Linked DNA regions of Homo sapiens: region 1 is reported to be linked to region 2. The links are microRNA targets in miRTarBase. Many come from high-throughput screens and were not tested one by one. Region 2 holds a microRNA gene; the other region holds the end of a gene's coding sequence.

The links. Region 2 holds the annotated microRNA hsa-miR-3925-3p (ACUCCAGUUUUAGUUCUCUUG, at 2,373-2,393, opposite strand). A microRNA usually pairs through its seed, bases 2 to 8, with sites in the 3' UTR of a target mRNA and lowers its output. Matches are read on the target gene's strand: a 7mer-m8 pairs with bases 2 to 8, a 7mer-A1 pairs with bases 2 to 7 and ends in A, and an 8mer does both.
Region 1: miRTarBase lists ZNF791 as a target of hsa-miR-3925-3p. The part of its 3' UTR that is shown has no 7-base or 8-base seed match.

Annotation. Positions count from the first base shown.
Region 1 is chr19:12,628,782-12,631,781 of GRCh38, forward strand. ZNF791 (zinc finger protein 791) reads left to right here. Exons shown (of 4, transcript NM_153358.3): 4 at 1-3,000. The coding sequence ends at 479. Among named protein-coding and RNA genes, the nearest start is that of ZNF791, 19 kb to the left of the region's middle.
Region 2 is chr6:36,620,074-36,624,393 of GRCh38, forward strand. It overlaps MIR3925 (microRNA 3925), which reads right to left and starts at 2,439; the gene lies at 2,363-2,439.

The DNA of each region.
Region 1 (3,000 bases), not on the chromosome of region 2:
CAAAAACCTTCATTTCTCTTGAGAACTTTCGAAGACACATGATCACCCACACTGGAGACGGACCTTATAAATGTAGGGACTGTGGGAAGGTGTTCATTTTTCCTAGTGCGTTACGAACACATGAAAGAACTCACACTGGAGAGAAACCCTATGAATGTAAACAATGTGGAAAAGCCTTTAGTTGTTCTAGTTACATTCGGATACATAAAAGAACTCACACTGGGGAGAAACCTTATGAATGTAAGGAATGCGGGAAGGCCTTTATTTATCCCACAAGCTTTCAAGGACACATGAGAATGCATACTGGAGAGAAACCCTATAAATGTAAAGAATGTGGGAAGGCCTTTAGTCTTCACAGTTCCTTTCAAAGACATACAAGAATTCACAATTATGAGAAACCTCTTGAATGTAAGCAATGTGGAAAAGCCTTCAGTGTGTCCACATCCTTAAAAAAACATATGAGAATGCACAATCGATAGAAACTCTATAAATGTGAGAAATAGGAGAAAGTTTTCAATTCTAACAGATGCTTTCAAAGTTGTGAAAATTCCCACTGAAGAGAGAAATCCTGTCAATGTAAGTAATATAGAAAGCGAGATACAAGATGATTCATGTATAGTCAGGTACCACATAATCATGTTTCAGTCAGCAATGGACCATATAGGTTGGTAGCCCCATAAGATTATATAACACCTAAAACATTTCTATCAACCGCAATTTAGTAGCAGTAGTAACACCATAGTGCAGCACATTATTTAAGTGTTTATGGTGCTGGTGTAAACGTGCTGCACTTTCAGTTGTATAAAAGTACAAGACAGCGGCCGGGGACGGTGGCTCACGCCTGTAATCCCAGCACTTTGGGAGGCCAAGGCGGGCGGATCACGAGGCCAGGAGATCAAGACCATCCTGGCTAACACGGTAAAACCCCATCTCTACTAAAAATACAAACAATTAGCCGGGCGTGGTGGTGGGCGCCTGTAGTCCCAGCTACTTGGGAGGCTGAGGCAGGAGAATGGCATAAACCCAGGAGGCCGAGCTGACAGTGAGCTGAGATCCGGCCAACAGAGCGAGACTCTGTCTCAAAAAAAAAAAAAAAAAAAAAGTACAACACAGCTGGGCATGGTCACACCTGTGATCCCAACACTGGGAGACTAAGGCAGTAGGATTGCTTGATGCCAGGACTACTCTGGTCAACCTAGTGAGACCCTGTCTCTACAAAAAATAAAAACATTTTCTAAGTGTGGTAGCACACCCTGTAGTCCCATCTACATGGGAGGCTGAGGCAGGAGGATTGCCTGAGCCCAGGAGTTCAAGGCTACAGTGAACCAAGATCACGTGATGGCAGTCCAGCATGGGTGACAGTGAGACTGTATCAAAAAAAAAAAAAAAAAATTGGCTGGGCACAGTGGCTCATACCTGTAATCCCAGCACTTTGGGAGGCTGAGGTGGGAGAATCAGTTGAGGTCAGGAGTTCAAGACCAGCCTGGTCAACATGATGAAACCCTGTCTCCATTAGAAATACGAAAATTAGCTGGGCGTTCTGGTGTGCCTGTAGTCCCAGCTACTTGGGAGGCCAAAGCAGGAGAATCGCTTGAACCCGGGAGGTGGAGATTGCAGTGAGCTGAGATCTACCACTACACTCCAGCCTGGGTGACAGAGCGAGACTCCGTCTCGAAAAAAAAAAAATTACAGCACAGATGTGCAATATATACTTGATAATAAATGGCTAAGTTACTGGTTTATATATTTACAATCCTGTTTTAGAATGTATTCCTGTGTTTTTTTAACAGTAAGACAGTCTCAGGCAGGTCCTTAAGGAGATATTCCCGGAAAAACTTTGTTATGATAGGCGATGACGGCTCCATGTGCAGGACTGCCCCTGAACGTATTCTGGCGGGACAAAACATGGAGGCAGAAGACAATGATATTGATGATCCTCACCCCGTGTAGTCCTACACTAATGTGTGTTTGTGTCTTAGTTAGTCTTTAACAAAAATAGTTTAAAAAAATTTAATAGAAAAAGCTTATAGAATATGGACATAAAATATTTTTGTACAGCTGTACAATGTGTTTTAAGCTAAATTATTACAAAGTTTTTAAAAATAAGTTTATAAAGAAAATAATGTACAGTAAGTTAAGGTTTATTCATTATTGAGGAAAAAATGTTTTTATGAATGTAGTGTAGTCCAAGTGTACAGTGTTTATAAATTCTCCATTAGTGTACAGTAACATCCTGGGCCTTCGCATTCACTCACCACTCAACTGACTCACCCAGAGCAACTTCTAGTCCTGCAAGCTATGTTCATGGAGTGTCCTATGCAGGTGCATCCTTTTTTATCTTTTATACTGCATGTTTACTCTGTGTATTTTCTGTGTTTAGACTCATAAATACTTAACATTTTGTTACAATTTCCTACAGTGTTCAGTACAACAACATGTTGTATGGTTTATAGCCTAGTAGCAATAGACTGTACCATATAGTCTAGATGTGTTGTAGCTATACCATCTAGATTTGTGTAAGTTCACTTTGTGATGTTTGTACCATGAGGAAATCACCTACAACACGTTTCTCAGAACATATACCCATGATTAAGCAATCTCTGCCTGTAAAATGCTCCAGAAAATTCACACCATGATATAAATTCATCACACACGATATAAAAGTTAAGGCAAGGCATGGTGGCTCATGCCTGTAATCCCAGCACTTTGGGAGGCCAAGGCAGGCAGATCACCTGAGGTCAGGAGTTCGAGACCAGCCTGGCCAAGACGGTGAAACCCCATCTCTACTAAAAATACAAAAATTACCTGAGCGTGGTGGCATGCACCTGTAATTCCAGCTACTTGGGAGGCTGAAGCAGGAGAATCATTTGAACCTGGGAGGTGGAGGCTGCAGTGAGCTGAGATTGTGCCACTACACTCCAGCCTGGGCAACAGAGCAAGACTCCATCCCACACACCAAAAAAAAGTTAAAAATTTTTTATCACTGGCTCATTCTTCAAG
Region 2 (4,320 bases):
GGCGAAACCCTGTCTCTGCTAAAAATACAAAAATTAGCCAGGCATGGCTGGGTGCGGTGGCTCATGCCTGTAATCCCAGCACTTTGGGAGGCTGAGGAGGACAGATCATGAGGTCAGGAGTTCAAGACCAGCCTGACCAATATGGTGAAACCCCGTCTCTACTAAAAATACAAAAATTAGCTGGGTGTGGTGGCACGCACCTGTCGTCCCAGCTACTTGGGAGGCTGAGGCAGGAGAATCGCTTGAACCCGGGAGGCAGAGGTTGCAGTGAGCCGAGATCACGCCAATGCGCTCCAGCCTGGGTGACAGAGCAAGACTCCATCTCAAAAAAAAAACCAAAAAAACAAAAAAGCTGCGTGGTGGTGCACGCTTGTAATCCCAGCCGCTTGGAAGGCTGAGGCACAAGAATCACTTGAGCCTGGAAGGTCAAGGCTGCAGTGAGCTGTGATGGCGCCACTGCACTCCAGCCTGAGTGAAGGGCAAGACCCTGTCTCAAACAAACAAACAAAAATCAAAGGATGAAGTCACGTAGATTTTGGGCAAATTGTTTTCCAAAATCTGTTAGCATAATTCTACAGAATGTCAAAAAGATAAAGACATCCACCAGTAAACCCTAATTGTTTGATGGTTGTAAGTAGTCACTTGAGATGTGACCGCAATAGGGGCCTGCCCATGGGGAAGGTGGCATACCCACCCATCTCCTGTGCCAACATGGCGTCCCTATCTCCTGGTAGCCCTGAGGCGAGGGTCAGGTGAAGGAAGTTGGGATCATCATTTACTCAGTTTGCCTATCTGTAGAAAGGGGGTATTTGGGCTGAAGGTGGCCTGTAACTCACAGGATGATCTGTCCCCTCTTCACACTGCACCCTGCAGTGAGGGGAGCAATGACTGAGTCAACCACTGCTTTAGGCAGCGGGGGTCCTTGATAAGGAGATAAGTTTGCCACACTGGGACTGATGGTCCTCAAGTTCTTTTCCAGCACCGATATTCTAAGATTCGGTGACTCCAGAAAAGCAATAAGGCCGTTGTGAGGAGGGCAGATCCAGAGGATGATCTTCCTGGAGGGGAGGGGAAAATGTTCAGTGCATACAGTGGGTAATGGTTCATCTGAGGTGGCATCAGACTGTACAACAAGCAGGGATTGTTCTGCAGGGTTCAGGCGACTGTTAGTATTTGATCAAGATTGGAATAGTCTCCTAAAACCTACTTGATCCTCACAGAAAAGTTCCTATCCCCATTGTGCAGATGTGGAAACTGAAGGTTAGAGATAGAAAGTTAGACCCTAGGGTGAGGCAATGGATGGCTAGGACTAGAACCCAAGGCAGGCTCCTAGGGCTCCTGCTTTTCCAGCACGCATCTACCATGCATATGTGCTACTACCAGGCCTGGCGCTAGGATTCACATCACTTTAGAGGCTGCTTGGTGAACATGGGCACCCACAAAAGCCCTGGAGAAGGCAGGTTCTTTCTCAGGAATGGCCAGTGGGTGTGAAGATCACAGTGTGGGAGAAAGATCAAGGAGGACTGAGGGCCACCCGACCAGGAATCATCTCCAGCAGCCTGTGGGTGACCGCTCGTCATCCAGATCAGCATCAGGAAGGTTCTGCACAACACCTCTAGGGAACACATGGGGATCGAGGTCCTGTGGCCGTCTTGGGGTCTGAAGATCTAGATTTAGCTTCTGGCAGTATCATGATGCAAACCTGGGCAAGTTGTTTTGTTCCCTGGACCTTGGTCTCTTCATCAGTGAAATGGAACTAATTATATTACCTCATAGGGCTATTATAAGGCCTAATAAAAAAAAAAAAGAAAGCATCCATAAACAATGTTTACTGAGCACTAGTAGTGCCAGGCACTCTTCACTTGTATTAACCCATTTGATCTTCACAAAAAATATTTTCTTTTTTGTTTGAGACGGAGTCTCCCTCTGTCGCCCAGGCTGGAGTGCAGTGGCGTGATTTTGGCTCACTGCAGCCTCCACCTCCCAGGTTCAAGTGATTCTCCTGCCTCCGCCTCCCGAGTAGCTGGGATTACAGGCGCCCGCCACCACACCCGGCTAATTTTTTGTATTTTTAGTAGAGACAGGGTCTCACCATGTTAGCTAGGATGGTCTCGATCTCCTGATTTCATGATCTGCCTGCCTCGGCCTCCCAAAGTGCTGGGATTACAGGCGTGAGCCACCGCACCTAGCCCACAACAAATTTTAGAGAGTAGGTACTATTGCTGTCCCCATTTTAGGAAACACAGAAGTTGGTTCCAGCCACAAGGAAGTGGCTTCATCCATCATCAAGAAGTTGATTCCAGCCCACGTGGATGGCTTTGAGGAGTTCAAGACTTTAGTGGAGGAAGTGATGAAAGATGTGGTGGAAATAGCAAGAGAACTAAAACTGGAGTCTGGAGATGTGACAGGCTCCACTTTCAGTTCTCTTGCTATTCCCACATGACCATGGTCCAGGATCCTGAGTTTATGTTCAGGAAATAAGACTCAGCGAAAACTTGCAGTCACTTTCATAATCATTAATGCAGAGATTCTCAATAAATTCTTAAGGCTCCACCACGCTCCAACATAAAGTAACACATTCAGTTTGTTACAGAAATGGTAATAAGGCAACACTATGCAATACTATGTGTACAATGCAGCACTTTGCAGTACCAAAATCCATGCCTACAAAGCACTGCACAAGAACACATACAAATAAAGGATATAGTAGAATGGCTGCCTGTGGGGTGGGGGCATGGAAATGACAATGGAGTGAGGGGGGAATACATGAAGCAAGAGGTGACTAGTCAGGACCAATGATGACAGCCAGCCATCACCTGGGGAATAGGAGGGACTCATCCCACTGCACCTGAGGACTAAAAATAAAATGGAATGGAAACAAGACCCTGGGTGAAATCACTCGGCCTGAAATACACTGGCCCTGGGCTCAAAGAGGAAAGGTGGGGACACATCCTGGGCTGCCTCATCAAACCAGGAGCCTGCAAGAGCATCCCTGTGTGTGTGTGGAGGGGGTGAGGACAAAGGGAGGGTCAACCACACCCAGTTCTGTGAGCTCAAACACCAGACTAAAGGCCACAGGCAGACCCTCCAAGGCCTCAGGGAAGGAGTGAAGAGAAAGGCCTGGGTGGTCAGTGTCAGAGGCGGCACAGTCACATGCTGTCATGCCTATTTCACCAAGGTTTAGCCAAATGCACTATTAGGGTGTCAAGAAAATATGGATATAGGGCAACAATCCTGTGATTGTATGATGACTGTAGGCTTGATCATCATAAGGGTCCTGCCATATGCTGGTCCAGTTGGCACACCCACCCATCTCCTGTGCCAGTGGAGTGTGCCTGTGAAACAGCAGTCAGCTCTTCTGGTGGCCCTGAGGATCGGGGTGAAGGAAGAGTGGATCTTCATTTAGTTAGTTTGCCCCTCTGCAGGAGGAGGGGAGTTGGATACAGACCTCTCCTAACAACCCGCCTGGCTACTGGAACCTTCCTGAGAAATGTGGTTAACCTCTGGGCGCAGAGCCAGCAGTTCTAGGCTCCCGTCACAAGGGGGCAGGATGGGGAAGAAAACAGGTTCTCAATTCCAGGCCTTGGACCTGTCAGGTTTGCTGGCAGGGGCAGGAAGGAGGGTGGGGTCGGGAGTGTGTGGTGGTTGATGAGGGATCCAACCATCGTTCCGCAAGAGCGGCTTGTTTATTAAACATGAAATGAGGGAAAAGCCTAGTAGCTCCATTGGATTGGGAAGAATGGCAAAGAGAGACAGGCGTCATTTTCTAGAAAGCAATCTTCACACCTGTTGGTCCTCACCCATTGAATGTCCTCACCCAATCTCCAACACAGAAATGAGTGACTGTGTGTGCACATGCGTGTGCATGTGTGAAAGTATGAGTGTGAATGTGTCTATATGGGAACATATATGTGATTGTATGTGTGTAACTATGTGTGACTGGCAGCGTGGGGAGTGCTGGTTGGAGTGTGGTGTGATGTGAGTATGCATGAGTGGCTGTGTGTATGACTGTGGCGGGAGGCGGAAGGGGAGAAGCAGCAGGCTCAGGTGTCGCCAGAGAGGCTGGGAGGAAACTATAAACCTGGGCAATTTCCTCCTCATCAGCGAGCCTTTCTTGGGCAATAGGGGCAGAGCTCAAAGTTCACAGAGATAGTGCCTGGGAGGCATGAGGCAAGGCGGAAGTACTGCGAGGAGGGGCAGAGGGTCTGACACTTGAGGGGTTCTAATGGGAAAGGAAAGACCCACACTGAATTCCACTTAGCCCCAGACCCTGGGCCCAGCGGTGCCGGCTTCCAACCATACCAACCATTTCCAAGTGTT